Homo sapiens: one gene and its partners. The protein of the gene in region 1 purifies or fractionates together with the protein of each later gene. This does not show direct contact. Each region holds a gene or a part of one and is shown in the gene's direction. Other genes may lie near its edges.

Region 1 (3,947 bases):
AACACAGCACTGGTTGGGGGCAGGTGTGGAGGAGGCGGAGTTGGATTCGCCAGGGTTATGGCTTAGCCCTGTGAGAATGCTGTATCCCTCAAAATAAGAGAGGGGAAAGGGAGTTGAGATTTTGCGCAGCAGTGCGTTTAGGCTGAGTGAGCAGGTTGGTTAGTGAGGACTTGGGCGGTGGGAAGACGGACAGTGCCCTGACAGGGGCTAGGTGCTGGAGTGCTGGGGGATAGAAGTGCGAAGCCAGGGCCCCTGTGTCAAGAAGTTCATACGCTGGAAAGGAACCAGACATAATAAGCGAAACGACTGTCACCGTTCATGGCTTACACCTTGAACAGCTTTCCACTGTGGAGACTAGGGAGTGTAGAGATTGTTGGGGATGGGGGACTTGCAGGGGACAGAATGGGCCGCAGCTGGACCCTAGTTCTCCAGGGAACGCAGTATGATTTGAATACAGATCTCTGCCTCCAGAGATGAGTGACTCGACACCGCTGCGGAGAAGGCTCCGAGGAGGGTTGGTGGGGACTCGAACCTCGGAGTCTCTCCCGACCCGGGGGTCCCAGCAAACCAGAACGGCCACCTAGACAGCCTGCGGACGGGAGAGGACCGGCTCCCTGGCGCAGATCATGGGGCAGGTGGAGAGAGGCGAGAGGCAATGAGGCGGGGGGCTCGGGGTGCACGGCACGCTCCGCACACTCCCCCTTCAGCGCTCACTCAGACTTGGTTTCCCCGAAGACACACTCTCGTCCCCGCCGCTGATTGCCCACTCCTTCCGCCTGCACTCCTGCCTCCTTCTCACCCTTTCGTCGAGCGCACAGGGCGGCTGCCAAGTCGGCACCGGTGCGCACCGGGCCCGGGATCCCTGGCTGGTGTGGAGCCTTGGTCACCGGAGGCCCCCGCGGAGCAGGCCCCACGGCGCCTTGTGCGCTCTCGGAGGCCGAGCTGCGCGCCCGCGTCAGCGGCGCCTCGTTCCTGGCCGGGAGCTGGGACCCGCGGAGCTAGGGACCAGCACCCCCACAGGCGCCCGTCTGACCCCTGTCCCTCCCCGCCCGCCGCGGGCAGGGCGGATCTGGGTAGGGGCCGGAGGGGGAGGGTCCGCCCAGCGGGTGTCCGGTGTCCTCCCTGCAGCCTCTCCCAGGCATTGGTCACTTCTCCGCGGAGGAGCAGCGAAGGCGACAGCTCTCTTGGCGCGGCTGCCTGGGAGCCGGGCGCTTGCTGGGTGGGTGCTCGGGCCCGGTGCTCCCGCTCCCGCCCTGACTGCGCGCCTGTGTGCCGCCGGGGCTGCCCAGCCATGCTGTGCTGCCTGCTGGTGAGGGCCAGCAACCTCCCCAGTGCGAAGAAGGACCGGCGCAGCGACCCTGTCGCAAGCCTGACTTTCCGAGGTGAGAGCCCCGTGGCTGCCGCGCCCATGCTCGGGTGCTACCCGACTCTCGGCGCTCACTGGCGGGTCTGAAGCCCCTGCTCCGGAGCTAACCCTAGTCCAGGCCACAGTTTCTCCCTTTGTCAGCAGGGACGGAAATCCCAGCCCCGACTTCTGCAGGGGGGCGATGAGGAATAAGCAGAGCACAATAAATGCCACAGGGCTTTGAAAAATTGGAAAAGCGAAAGTGCCGTAGGTCAGCGGTTATCACTTTTCTAAGACTGACACCCAGAGGAAATAAAGTCCGAGCTTTTACTGGGTAGTGGGGATAAGGGTAAGTTGGAAGATGGGTGCAGAAGGTAGAGAGGAATCAGGGCCTCTGAAAAACGGGGCGTGTAGATGATGTGCTTTGAAAGTTGTGTCTTTTTTCATTCATTCATTCATTCATTCACCCATCTTTATCCAACATTGGCTGTATTGAATCTGCCCCGTCTTAATCAGTAGGAAAAGGAACAGAATAGGATGGAAATGGCCTTGACACAAGGAGTTTTGAGGAATGTCAAGGATATTTTCTCTAAATTCAAGAAGCTAAGTCCCTACATGTAGTGCTTAGAATACATACAGGTATTTCTGTGTGGGGCAGCAGAGAAATCACACACACACTCCTCTTCTCACCAGGCGTCCTGAACCCCCTCCCCCAACCCCTCCAAGGCAGATTCCCACTGGAGCGGGTGTCTCAGGAGGGGAAAGGGAAGAGGAAGGATCTGTCAAAATTAAGAGAAGGAACAATAGCTGTGAGTCAGGACCCCAGTTCTGCAGAGAAAGATAAATCAGGAGAGGAAAGAGGGTTTCCACTTAGCCAGGAGCCATACCCTGTAGCTTTGTGGAATCGATAATAATAATAATAAAAATCTACGTATCAGAAAAGATAGTCAAATGAAGAAGGAAGAGTAGCTGGTGTTTTCATAAGCCTCCTTCAGTGCAGGCACCAAGGGAACTCTTTTCAGTCTGACCCATGATCTGAATCATATCTCCAAGCACCCCCAAGATAATGATAGATGAAAGACATGATTTGGCAAAGGGAGATTTATGTGTAGCTTTTATTCTTTGCTGTGGGACAAGTTATATGTATTCCTCTTTTGAAAGATGTGATTTGAAACGTTTAAGAAAATTTCACTATTTTCATTGATTGGTGACATGCCTGGGAGTTCACTATGCAAGAGCAACTTCAAGACAAAGTCTTTCCTTCTCCAGTGTCCACCTGATGCTGCCTAAGGCTTTGCTATGCAGAAATTGCGGTGTCACCATTGGCTGGAAAAGAAATTCCCTAAGGACACTGGGCAGGGCACACATTAGCATAGGGCTCTGGATGCTCTAACACTCGTTTGGGTCTGCTCACAGCTCTTTCCCTTGTCCTGTAACAGTCCTGTGGTGGCTACCAATGTCTCCATTCTGCAAATAAGGAAATTGAAACCCAGGGAAGTTAAATGTGTTCAGGTCAGTGGTCATGGCAGGGAGCTACCAGCGCTTGGAGTGGGTATTGCCCTTGAGTCGGGAAGATGACCAAATCCCTTGAGGCCCCTCTTTACTATTGCCCTCGCCCAAGTACCCCGAACACGTGCAGCTGCTATCTCCCCCCAGATCTCTGTATTCCTTCTTTGTAATGCCTTACTATTTATTTGCACTGATGATCTCCTCGGAAAACAGAAATACCATACAATAGAATGTAACATCTCCAACCGTTTCAAGTCTATTTGTATTTCAAAGCCCAGGGCAATGCCACCTTCTCCAGGAGGACACCCTGGATCCCCCTGGCTCTCAAGAGTCTCTCCTCTCTGGATGACAAGCAGCAGCACCTTGCTAGGGATGCTAGCACCCTCGCCCTGACTGGCCTGTGCTCAGCTCCATGCTTAGGTGCCTTGAGAGCAGTGACCTGTCCTATTTGTTCATTGGTTTGTCCCAGTGCTGAGCACAAGTAGGTGCTCTCTAGTGTTTGTGCGCTTTCTGGCCCAGCCTCTAGCCATCCTCCAGGTGTGCCTGGGAGCTTCATTTAGTCTGGGACATGGTCCGCTCACTTGATTGTTCCTGAGAATCACTTGTAGAACGTGTTTGAGAAACAGATTCCAGAGTCCCCATCTGTAGAGGTTCCGATGCAGCAGGTCTGGAAGGTGACCTAAGAATCAGCACTTAACAAATACCCGATGCAGGTTATTTTGGAACCGCATCTTGGGAAAAATGGGTCTGAGATGTGATGGCAGGTGAAATTAATGCGCTCCCCATTGCGGGAGCATTCACTGGGGAGTTTGGGGCTGAGTTGATGCCTAAGGAGGGAAACCGTTAGAACCAGGTTCAGAACTTACAGAGCATGTAGGCTGGGGGGACTCAACTCTGGCTGCAGGTCAACATTGTGTGTGGGAGCTTCACCAAAGACCACTGCCAACCTCCCTGCCTGCCTTTTCTGAAGCCAGATCCCTTCCGGTGGGGCCCCAGGCATAGGTGTTGTTTCTGTCAAATTTCCAGGTGTTTTGAATGTGCAGTCAGGGTTGAGAACCACTGAGCCCAGCTCCTCATGGCACAGATGGGACAG
Region 2 (4,186 bases), on another chromosome or scaffold:
GTATTTCTTTTTCTTCCTCATCTTTACATTACTTCTCTCTGCAGATTTGTTGCTATTGAGACTTTAGGCAATTAGTTTCACCTTCAGGCTCTTTGTTATTCAAATTTTAGTTTTACTTCCTCTTAGAATCATAATACTTCAGAGTAAAGAGAGTCTTCATTTTAGTAGGCTTTGGAAATTGGGAAACAAAGAAGAAAGACTTTTGCATAATGGCATGGCTTGTTAATCACAGGGCATGGGTAGGACATTGTCCCATTGACTTGAAGACCAACACTCAGTAAGCTAAATGTCTTGGAATCACAAATGTATTTCTAAAGGACAGGCAATGTTTGAGGTCTGAGGTGTCTGCTAGAAAGAGTGCATTTAACAAATGTGAGAAATCATTCTCTAACATGCATTTTAACAAATTGCTCTTAAGAAAAACTACACATTGAGAAAAATCTTACAACCTATGTTCACATCATTTTCTACAAAATATTACTTAAAACTTTGCTTTTGAATTTCCTAATTATATAGAATTTTTATTTTCTTAGTTTTCTATGAAAGTGTTATTAAATAAAATGACTTTCTGAAATGTCCATTTTTTTCAATCAAGAGGTTTTTCTATTTCTGTTGTCATATAAAGATGATAGCAGTAAATATCTGTCTCAACATAGAAAGGTCACTCAGTACTTCTCGACAAGTATCTGCTCATGCTTTCCTGCATGGATGATGAAATAAAACCCCATCCTCCACAGTTACTATACTGGTTGTCACTGGAACTACAAATATTTGAACATGGTAATAGAAAAACATAAAAATGCATAGTTAACCCAACTCAAACGCTGTCTGAGATAGTGGAGAGACTTTCTCAAAGTCCTCACAAGTAACAAAGATCTTTATTTCTTCTGCATATGACAGCTAATATAACTTACATAAATCAGTAGGCCTGTTTGGAAAGGTGCATGGAGAACTGGGTTTGTTTCCTTGGTATTCTTATATGCAAATAAGCACGTTTTCCTAAATTTATCCTAATAAGGAGATGAAATCTTGAATCCTACAAAGGTAAGAATTTGAATGTCCTAATTTAATGGACTAAATATAGATAAGAGGTAAATAAAGGACATAGGCTCCCCCGATGACGCATTAAATAAAATTTTTGTAAGGTATTGAGATCTAATAATCATATTGATCTCAGGGATTGTGGAAGTCTTGCTATTCAGAATTAAAGCTGAATTAACGGTCATAAACAACGCTACACAGTTAAACATTAAGGATATGGCAACATTATTAGAAATAAAATTATAACTAAACTTAGGAGAAATAAAAATGGAATTTGATGCAGTCACTGGTTAGGACTCTGAGTGTCGCTGTTGACCAAAGTGGGAAAGAAGCTGCCGCAGAGGCGACCCGACTCTGCTCCCTCCATACTAAACACACAGACCAGACAAGCTCCTACGAAAAGCCAACGCTCCACGCCCATTTTCGTCAGGGAATATGTACCCATCGGCTTTAGATAAATAAGGAAACAGCAGGCTGAACCAGAACTAAGAGAAAATTGGGCAGAGAGAAGGCAATGGCGAGTCCACCTAGGGGCTGGGGCTGCGGAGAGCTGCTGCTGCCCTTCATGCTCCTGGGGACGCTGTGCGAGCCAGGATCCGGGCAGATCCGCTACTCGATGCCGGAGGAGCTGGACAAAGGCTCCTTCGTCGGCAACATAGCCAAGGACCTTGGGCTGGAGCCCCAGGAGCTGGCGGAGCGCGGAGTCCGCATCGTCTCCAGAGGTAGGACGCAGCTTTTTGCCCTGAACCCGCGAAGCGGCAGCTTGGTCACCGCGGGCAGGATAGACCGGGAGGAGCTCTGCGCTCAGAGCCCACTGTGTGTGGTGAACTTTAACATCTTGGTTGAGAACAAAATGAAAATTTATGGAGTAGAAGTAGAAATAATCGATATTAATGATAACTTCCCGCGTTTCCGGGATGAAGAGTTAAAAGTAAAAGTTAATGAAAATGCGGCTGCAGGGACACGGTTAGTGCTTCCCTTCGCGCGGGATGCGGATGTGGGTGTGAACTCTCTCCGGAGTTACCAGCTCAGCTCCAATCTGCACTTCTCTCTGGATGTGGTAAGCGGAACTGATGGACAAAAGTATCCGGAGCTGGTGTTGGAACAGCCCCTAGACCGCGAGAAAGAGACTGTTCACGACCTCCTCCTCACAGCTTTAGATGGCGGAGACCCGGTACTCTCCGGCACCACGCACATCCGTGTTACGGTCCTCGACGCAAACGACAATGCGCCCCTGTTCACCCCATCCGAGTACAGCGTGAGTGTTCCAGAGAACATACCTGTGGGCACTCGGCTGCTCATGCTAACCGCCACGGATCCAGATGAGGGAATAAACGGGAAATTGACCTACTCTTTTCGCAATGAAGAAGAAAAAATTTCGGAGACTTTCCAACTTGATTCCAACCTGGGGGAAATCTCAACTCTACAATCACTGGACTATGAAGAATCCAGATTCTACCTCATGGAAGTGGTAGCTCAGGATGGAGGCGCTCTTGTTGCCAGCGCTAAGGTGGTGGTCACAGTACAGGACGTGAATGACAATGCCCCCGAAGTGATCCTCACCTCTCTGACCAGTTCGATCTCTGAAGACTGTCTTCCCGGAACTGTAATCGCGCTGTTTAGCGTACATGATGGTGATTCTGGAGAAAATGGTGAGATTGCATGCTCTATTCCTAGGAATTTGCCTTTTAAATTGGAGAAGTCAGTTGATAATTACTATCACCTATTAACAACTAGGGACCTGGACAGAGAAGAGACTTCAGATTATAATATCACTTTAACCGTCATGGACCATGGAACCCCGCCCCTCTCTACAGAAAGCCACATCCCCTTGAAAGTAGCAGACGTTAATGACAACCCACCCAATTTCCCTCAAGCCTCCTACTCCACCTCTGTCACAGAAAACAATCCCAGAGGTGTCTCTATCTTCTCTGTGACAGCCCATGACCCCGACAGCGGCGACAACGCTCGAGTCACCTACTCCCTGGCTGAAGACACATTTCAGGGGGCGCCCTTGTCCTCCTATGTATCCATTAACTCTGACACCGGTGTCCTGTATGCTCTGAGATCCTTCGACTATGAGCAGTTGAGAGACCTACAGTTGTGGGTGACAGCCAGCGACAGTGGGAACCCTCCACTTAGCAGCAACGTGTCGCTGAGCCTGTTTGTGCTGGACCAGAACGACAATACGCCTGAGATCCTGTACCCCGCCCTCCCCACAGACGGTTCCACGGGCGTGGAGCTGGCGCCTCGCTCCGCAGAACCTGGCTACCTGGTGACCAAGGTGGTAGCGGTGGACAAAGATTCAGGCCAGAACGCCTGGCTGTCCTACCGCCTGCTTAAGGCCAGCGAGCCAGGACTCTTTGCGGTTGGGCTGCACACGGGCGAGGTGCGCACAGCGCGAGCCCTGCTGGACAGAGACGCGCTCAAGCAGAGCCTCGTGGTGGCCGTCGAAGACCATGGCCAGCCCCCTCTGTCAGCCACCTTCACGGTCACCGTTGCCGTGGCCGACAGGATCCCTGACATCCTGGCTGACCTAGGCAGTATCAAGACCCCCATTGACCCTGAGGATCTGGACCTCACACTCTATCTTGTGGTGGCAGTGGCTGCAGTCTCCTGCGTCTTCCTGGCCTTCGTCATCGTGCTGCTGGTGCTCAGACTGAGGCGCTGGCACAAGTCACGCCTGCTTCAGGCTGAAGGCAGCAGGTTGGCGGGTGTGCCCGCCTCGCACTTTGTGGGCGTGGATGGGGTTCGGGCTTTCCTGCAGACCTATTCCCACGAGGTCTCCCTCACCGCGGACTCGAGGAAGAGTCACCTGATCTTTCCCCAGCCCAACTACGCAGACACGCTCCTTAGTGAAGAGAGCTGTGAGAAAAGCGAGCCTCTTCTGATGTCTGATAAGGTAGATGCAAACAAAGAAGAACGGCGAGTTCAGGTTAGTTTTCTCTTTCGGTAAGGATGACCAGAACATTTTCATTTGTTTCCTTTTTCATGTTTCTGTCATATTCAGAATCAGCTAGTTATGTAAATAGTGGAACATTATTTGCTGTATTGGAGATTAATTTTTTTTATATAATTCATGCTTTCTCCATTTGTTTTCAAATTCTGTTTTGGGAAGTCTAGCTGATATCTGTAGACTTAAGTG
Region 3 (3,500 bases), on another chromosome or scaffold:
CCATACTGGTTAGGGTAGCCTTTTAACATAGGATGTTTAAGCTGGAACTTTAGAATCCAGAGTCACAGGTAAGTGGCTATAGAGAAAAGCCCAGCACAGAGATATCCTGACATCCAAGTTCAATGTTTTTCCCTGATGCCATGATATTTCTTTGCTGTCAAGCACATCATGATCCATTTAACTCTGAAACATTTATTGTATATTCATTATGTCCCCAACATTGCATTATAATGCTGGGGTGGCTGTTTCACCGAGAAAAAAAGTCATAATTTTTGTCTTGAATAAGATAATCTAGGATACGAGAAACAGAAAATAGAATTGAAAGCCAGGAAGCCCTGTCTTGATCCCAGAAATGCCACTGTGTGATATGGGGAAACTCACTTTCCTTCTTCAAGAGTCACTTTTCTTGTCCTTAAAATAAAGGATTTGGGTTAGAGATCCTCAAAGGCCTCCTATAGCTGGTAGCCTATGGACCTAAATAGAAAGATAAGCACACAGGAGGTGAGAGGAGAACAGCGCTCAGCAGGCAAGGTCCCAGGTGAGCAAGTGCAGAGTGGCAAGTGCTGAGGCGAAGGTGTTCCCAGTGATGAGGGCTACATCACATAATTAGGAAGTTCATTTAAGAAACAGATGCCTCTAACTCCTGTACTCTCCCACCTCCTATATTAAGCACCCTCAACTTCACTAAAACAATGCCTCCACCCCAAGAAACTCATTGCCCCAGACTTTCCTCCCAGGCCAGACCTGCTCAAACAGTGCTTCTCAAACTCTAATGAGCACAAGAATCCCAGGTCCTATGCCCTGAGGTTCTGATTCAGTCAACTCTTCATGCCGGTTGTCCTTAGGCCACTTTTCAGAAACCCTAGAACAGTGGCCTGTGTTCTGGACCTTCAGTGGCTGTTCCAATTAGTAAATGAATCGATTTGCTCTGAGATGCTAATGGCTAGTGTTTTGAAATATCCCCTCAGGGAGCATTTGCAATTTGACAGGGAACAACCAGAAACAGTGAGAATTCAGAAAGTGACAGGCTACCAGGGGCTAGAGTGGGGCGGTTTGAGGACAGAGAGTCCCCTCTGTGTCAGCTCTGATAGCCTTAGCCAGTACTAAATGAGCCTGATGGTGGGGCCCACACATCAGAGGAGCTTGAGCAAGGGTGCTGCAGAGGCAGTGGACAAAGCCACTCAGGGCCATCTGCAGGGAGCAGATGGGTTGAGTCATGTGCTGCTTCAGGTCCAAGTCATTTTGAGGGCGTTTTGAGCAGAGAACATCTTAGTTTCATTACGAGGTTATATCATCCTGTATTCAAGACTGTTGTAATGGGATAATGGCCCCATTTCTACCTACCAAGTACAAAGTCATCCACAACTGTGCCCAAACTTAGATTTCCGGAATGAATTCAGGTCCTCACGTTATTCCACTATCAATGCTTACCCATGTCCTCCATCAGGGAAATTAAAATAAAGACCAAAGGCTAAAAAAGAAAAAAAAAAAAAAAAGGCTGGGCAACCAGCAGCTCCAAGGCTTCCAAGGCTGTTGAAAGCCAGAACAGCAGCCTCCTGAGGGCAAGGAGGGGGCTGAGAGGGGTGCAACTGAGTCAGTGATCCCTAAGCCACCCAGAAAATCCAAGAAGGGATAGGAGCAGCAAGCATGGGACATTTAGGAACCCCTGGGTGATGCTGACACACTCCCTGACTCAGGCCAATTGGGATCCCTGAGAGTAGGTGATCGAAGGTTACTCCAAGCTCAGAAATGCCAGATTTCTACACCTGGCCCCTCAGGTCACCCAGCATCACTCAGGACTCTGAAAAACAGCAGTTCAAGTCTGGCTAAAGCAGCCAACCTCAGTTTGCTCATCTTTAAAGGTGAAGAGCTCCTCATCCTGGAGGTAATCCTACAAAGGATGGATGTGGCTAGAGAAAAGAATGGGGGCCCAGCTAGGAAGGGCCTTGAATGGTTTTCTGGGGAACATGCAATATATCCTAAGAAGTCTTGGGAGGCAAGTGAGCTGGAGGTAAGGCTAGGAAGGAAGCTCCCGTAGGCGTTCAAGCCAGACAGTATGGCAGCCTATGGCAACAGTGAGGAGGAGAGGTGTAGACATTTGAGAAGGAATCATTTAGAAGGCAGAAGCAACAGGATTTGGGACTGAACTAGCTCCTCTCATAGTTTCTTGTGCACCCTTTGTAACTTCTGGCACAATTCTAATTAATAAATGTGTATTCATTTAACATTTGTCTTCCCTGATAGACCGGAAGCTCTATGACAGCAGATCTGGATCTTCGGAAACAAGCACAGGCCTGACACAGAGAAAATGCTCAACTAGTGTTTCCTGAGTGAATGAATGAGATACAGAAAATATAGAAAAGGGAAAAATCAATGGTAGCTCCCAAGACTTTGGCTTGGACAGTGTGGGGGCTTTGCTGACATAAACACACTTGGAGGAGGGCAGTGAGGAAGTCAGGCTAGAAGTCAAGTCCCATCTTGACCTTACTGAGTGGGAAGTCCCTGTAAAACACTAGGCATTTGTATGTTCTGACCTGAAATTCAGAATAGAGGACAGGGCATAAAATATACATATATTTGGGGATCATCAACTTACTAGTGATCACTGAAACCTAACAGAAGATGAGATCAATCAGGAAAAAGAGTTTCAAGTGAGGATAATAAGGGCCAAGTACAGAAGCTTTGGGGAATGCAACATACTAAAGGGTCAAGTAAGAAAGAGCAACTCATGTAGGACAGCAGGAGCCCCCAGACAAAGGAAATTAGAACAGGATAAATTCATGGAAGCCAAAGAGTTCCAAAAAGTGGGAGCAGGTCAGATAAGGACAGAAAACTGTCCATCAGATTTAGCACCAGGGATCCCTGATGTCTTGGGCAGTTCTGCTGGCATGATGAGAGTGAACACCAATCCATAATGGGCTATGAACTGAACATAAAAGGTGTGAAGGAGTAAACCATGTAAACTACTCTTCTAGAAAGCATGGCTGTGGACTGAAGGGAATAGGGTGCTAGTTGGAGAGAAAACAAATGAAGAAGGAGGATTTTTAGGAGAAAAGAGATCCAACCATGTGTTTATCTGCTGATGGAAAGAGTCGATGCAGAGAAAAAGGACAAAGATACAAGAAAGAGGGGAAGTCATTGGTGGGGTAAAGTCCCTGAGAGGACAGAAATGGATGGATGATCTCCAAGGGGTAATCCTTGAAAGGGGAGTGGCACCCCCTCTGCCCTCTGGGACTGCAGAGAAGGAGGCGAGGGTAAACATAGATGGGGGTGACTGTAATAACAGGGGACAAATACAATTGAGGGGCCCAATTGGTGCCTGTATTTCTCTTTCAGTGAGGTGAAAGACAAAAAATGACTATATATCTATAAAGTACACATTTTCATGTAATGTTTTCTATGAAGCTTCCATAACACCAATCCAATTAGGCGACTATAAAATATCCATTGTCCTTGAGATGCTCACATCCTAGTTGAGCAGGCAACACCAAGGTGGGCTG
Region 4 (3,949 bases), on another chromosome or scaffold:
CCCTCAGTGTCTGATTCCTGAATTCCTCTGGGGTGATCCCTTCTCACTGCTGGATTTCTCCAACCCTGTTGTCCACAGTCTCTTCTGGGAGAAAATGGTGCAATTTCAAGGTTGCAGTTACAGGAGGAGGGGACAGTTTCTCTAGGGTAACACTGGGAGTATCTTCAAAACCATGCAGTAAATAAAGTGCCAAAAATAAACACCTTGGGTCAACAGCTCCTCACTGTCATCTCCATTTGCATTTTCTAAGCTTCTGGCCACCTAAGAGATCTTACAACACAGTGGAGTGCTCTGGGAAACCCCGAAATGAAGTCTCAGTATTACTCAGAGAGATGTGTGTTTGTTTGTGCAGCCAGACAGAATTTGGCACACGTTGGGTAGCTCGATATGGTGATGCCAGCCAATGGTGCTCGCGTAGAAGCTCAGTGTTCACTCATCCCTTTGGGAGGACTGCTTTTTGAGTTACATTTTCTTCTTTCTCCTTTAGTGATACAGTCTGAAGTATCAAACTGAGTAAATATTGTGAAATGCAAGATGTTTGACCAAAACCAGTTATCTATTCATTGACTATAGATTTAATCGAGCCACATAAAGCCTAGATATGGTTCAGTTTGGTTTAAATGCTGTAAAGTTTCCAATCCTTAAATGCAAGAGGTTTGAAAAAAAGAAAAGAAAAGAAAAGAAAAATGCAACTATTACTGAGCAAAATAAAAGCTCTGTCCTCTAAATGCCTGCTTTGGTTTAACATAGTGGCTTGCTTTACTTTCAGATAAATTGTAATTGAAGCAAAACCAAGATATGAGAAATATGAACTCCCTCTTTCAACAAAACCCATTGTGTTCAAATTCATAAGCAAGAAAGTTAAGCACCCACCTTCCTCTTTAAGGAAATATGAAAGTTGTTGCTTTGAAATAGAATTCATTGCATTCAGACTTTGAGTGATATCTGTATTCATATCCAACCGGATCTGCAGCCCTCTTCAAAAAATTCTTTCTCCTCAGTGGTGAGAATTACCCCACCTGGGATTCACTCTTCACAAGGCTCAAGAAGCCTATTCATATGAATGAAACTGCTTTCTTCAGGGCAGATGCGGAAGCTGCCCTCCAGAGGGCTTGGGCAACCCAAGGAAAGGAAATCACCTCGGTCGGCAGTGTGACTGCTGAGACTGCCGGGGCTGCTGCCTGCTGCTTCTCGCGCCTGTCCTCTCCAAGATGCAGTTTTTTGATGCTGAGGAGCTCCTGGTCGATGAAGAGGATGATGTTTTTGGTGAAGGTAAATGCATCTTTCTGGCAGGAGGCTCTCCGGTCTGCTTTGCTTTGTTTTGACACCACTGGACACTTTTGCCCAGCTTGGGCAAGGACTTGAGTATTTTGAAATGATAAAAACAAAGCATCCTGAGTGAGGTAGTGGCTGCAAATATCAACTTAGGCACTGAAGGAATACACAAGGCAAGGGGTGGAACAAGGGGTTGAGTCATTCCCGCAAATACATTTTTTAAAGTCATGACTAAAATAAAGGTTTAGTTTAGGCTGGAAAATAGTACTAAATTTTTTGCCTTGTCTCTCTTCTGTGCTATCTCTTGTCTAACACCTTAAGGAAAGCCTGTCACAGTGGTTTGAGCACAGCAGGGCTGCTAGGGAAGAAGTTAAATAAATGGACCAGGAGTGGTTTTTCATGGTACCATGTTGCTTTGATTTGCACTTCTCTCTTTCTGTCTCTCTCTCTCTCTGTCTCTCTCTCTCTGTCTATCTTTCTCTCGGTCCTTCTCTTTTTTTTTTTTTTTTTTTTTGTTGTTGTTTTTTGAGACAGAGTCTTGCTTTGTTGCTCAGGCTGGAGTGCAGTGGTGCAATCTCAGCTCACTGCAACCTCCGTCTCCCGGGTTCAAGTCATTCTCCTGCCTCAGCCTCCCAAGTAGCTGGGACTACAGGCGCCCACCACCATGCCCAGCTAATTTTTGTATTTTTAGTAGAGATGGGATTTTGCCATGTTGGCCAGGCTGGTCTTGAAATCCTGACTTCAGGTGATCCACCCTCCTTGGCCCCCCAAAGTGCTGGGATTACAGGCGTGAGCTACCATGCCCGGCCTGGGTCCTTCTCTCTTACTCTTCCTCACACATACTTGGCACTCCAACCCTCCATTCCCTTTTCCAATTTTCTTTTTTCCCAAGTCGGGATACTGGAGCCCTGGTAGCTTCCAATCCCCATTGGCACTGCTCAGTTTTCTGTTCTCATCTTGCAGCTTTTCCATGACTTGACCTATCCACTGGAATTTAACTGTAAAGGTTGCGATTTTAAAGGGATGATCTAGTCATTGGATGGATGTTTTGTTCAAATGCTGCCTATGAGATTGGGCTATAGGCAAAAGCTTTTTTAGAATTTGGAGCCACCTAAATAAAGGAAATTTGGACTCAAGAATCTCGTGAATTTGATTATTTTCCGCAAGAAACTACGTCTAGCAATTTTTTAAAAAACTCTATTCAGTAATTTTTTAAAAGGAACAGTAGTAAGGTTTTTGTGTATGTGTAATTACCCAAGCAATACAAGTTCGCTGAAGAAAAATTAGAGTGTCGCAAAGAACCCCTTGTAATCTAGTCATGTAGAATGTAATCATGGTTAATATTTTGATGTTGTCTTTCTGCTATGTTGTTCTAGCTACAGAAATATTTAAAATCATTAGTTGGGTTTTTATCACAACTTAAATCAATTTGAAGAATATCTATTGAGCTTCGCTGCTGTTTACCAAGTTATCATTCTGTTGTGTTACTTTGATGGCAGGCGTTTAGGCCACCAACACCTTGAAGTTTGATCTTAGGCCCCATTCTTCAGCTTTCACTTCTTAAAGATGTTTCCTCTTTAAGCAAACACCTTAAAGAGAAAATTTATACTTAGATACTAACTCTTTTGAGGACCTGAAAAATGCTCACAACTATGAAGATAAGCTTAGAACGGAAAAATTGGCAATCATTCACCCACACCTCCCTCCAGGAATGGCATTCCAAAACGCCCAGCCCACATTTCTTTGCCTATAGGAATTTTGCTCTTTTACATCTGGCTATGATACTTAAGAGCGCCCTCTATAGGCTGATGCACTGCACTCTGGATTATGCGTGGCCCCATCCTGAAGGGAAGCGTTAAGACCAAGCAGGGCTGGATGAACCTGTGTGTTCTCTCTCCTGAGCATTCATCATTTCCAAGGTGATTATTGTAACCTCACTAACCATGTTGTAGTGGAATGGCTGAGGTCCCCAGGTTCCAGGTAGCTAGGTAACCAGCTAGCTCTGAGGTGGGAAGTGAGGGAGGTAGTGCAGGTTGATAAGTTGGGAGTCAAACGAGATTCAGACTCAGATTCTGGTTCTGCTTCGTGGTACCCATACAAGCTAACTTTGGTCTCCTCAATGGTGAAGTGGGACAGTAATACCTATCGGTTGTACAGATTATCTTCATAGTAGATGCATAATGTTTGCGTTGCACTTCAATGTGGTATGCTTTATCTTTTCCAAACTGATTATCTCATTTAACTTAATCCCTAAAGATTAAAGAGAAAATCCTTGCAAGGCCAACATCCAGTGTATTTTTATTCAGTTTTCAGAGCCGTGGCTCATGTTTGGCAATTTATGTGAAAGCATGTCCAGCTGCTGCCTCATTTTAAGCAAGCTCTGTGTGGGGTAACAGTCAAAAGCTTCAGCTCTGGAATTGCACGGTCTAGGCTTTGCCAACCAATTCACTTATGACCTTAAGCAGGTTACCTAATCTCTCTGTGCCTCAGTTTACTCACTTATAAAATGGAGTCCAAACCTCATATGGCTGTGTGTGGCTTAAGTGTTATGATAGGGAAAGCTTTTAGAATAGTGGTCAGTACTTAATACATATGAATCCCTATTGTCTATTTACAAAAATGGGTTTATAGAATAGTGACCATTTTTTCACGTCTGGTTAACCTCAGATTCAAA

What was found.
Region 2: the proteins of DYSF (region 1) and PCDHGA5 purify together in Homo sapiens (co-immunoprecipitation; one large-scale study listed by IntAct). This does not show direct contact.
Region 3: the proteins of DYSF (region 1) and LRRC52 purify together in Homo sapiens (co-immunoprecipitation; one large-scale study listed by IntAct). This does not show direct contact.
Region 4: the proteins of DYSF (region 1) and RIPOR2 purify together in Homo sapiens (affinity purification with western blotting; one study listed by BioGRID). This does not show direct contact.

The regions. Positions count from the first base shown.
Region 1 is NC_000002.12:71,465,552-71,469,498, forward strand, and holds the start of DYSF (dysferlin), read left to right. Parts: upstream 1-1,147; 5' UTR 1,148-1,291; coding exon 1,292-1,382; intron 1,383-3,947. UniProt on the Homo sapiens protein: Key calcium ion sensor involved in the Ca(2+)-triggered synaptic vesicle-plasma membrane fusion.
Region 2 is NC_000005.10:141,362,776-141,366,961, forward strand, and holds the start of PCDHGA5 (protocadherin gamma-A5 isoform 1 precursor), read left to right. Parts: upstream 1-1,386; 5' UTR 1,387-1,555; coding exon 1,556-3,976; coding exon of another isoform or gene 3,977-3,997; exon of another isoform or gene 3,998-4,186. UniProt on the Homo sapiens protein: Potential calcium-dependent cell-adhesion protein. May be involved in the establishment and maintenance of specific neuronal connections in the brain.
Region 3 is NC_000001.11:165,550,500-165,553,999, forward strand, and holds part of LRRC52 (leucine-rich repeat-containing protein 52 precursor), read left to right. Parts: intron 1-3,500. UniProt on the Homo sapiens protein: Auxiliary protein of the large-conductance, voltage and calcium-activated potassium channel (BK alpha).
Region 4 is NC_000006.12:24,933,161-24,937,109, reverse strand, and holds the start of RIPOR2 (rho family-interacting cell polarization regulator 2), read left to right. Parts: upstream 1-1,149; 5' UTR 1,150-1,211; coding exon 1,212-1,272; intron 1,273-2,739; exon of another isoform or gene 2,740-2,864; intron 2,865-3,045; exon of another isoform or gene 3,046-3,135; intron 3,136-3,949. UniProt on the Homo sapiens protein: Acts as an inhibitor of the small GTPase RHOA and plays several roles in the regulation of myoblast and hair cell differentiation, lymphocyte T proliferation and neutrophil polarization.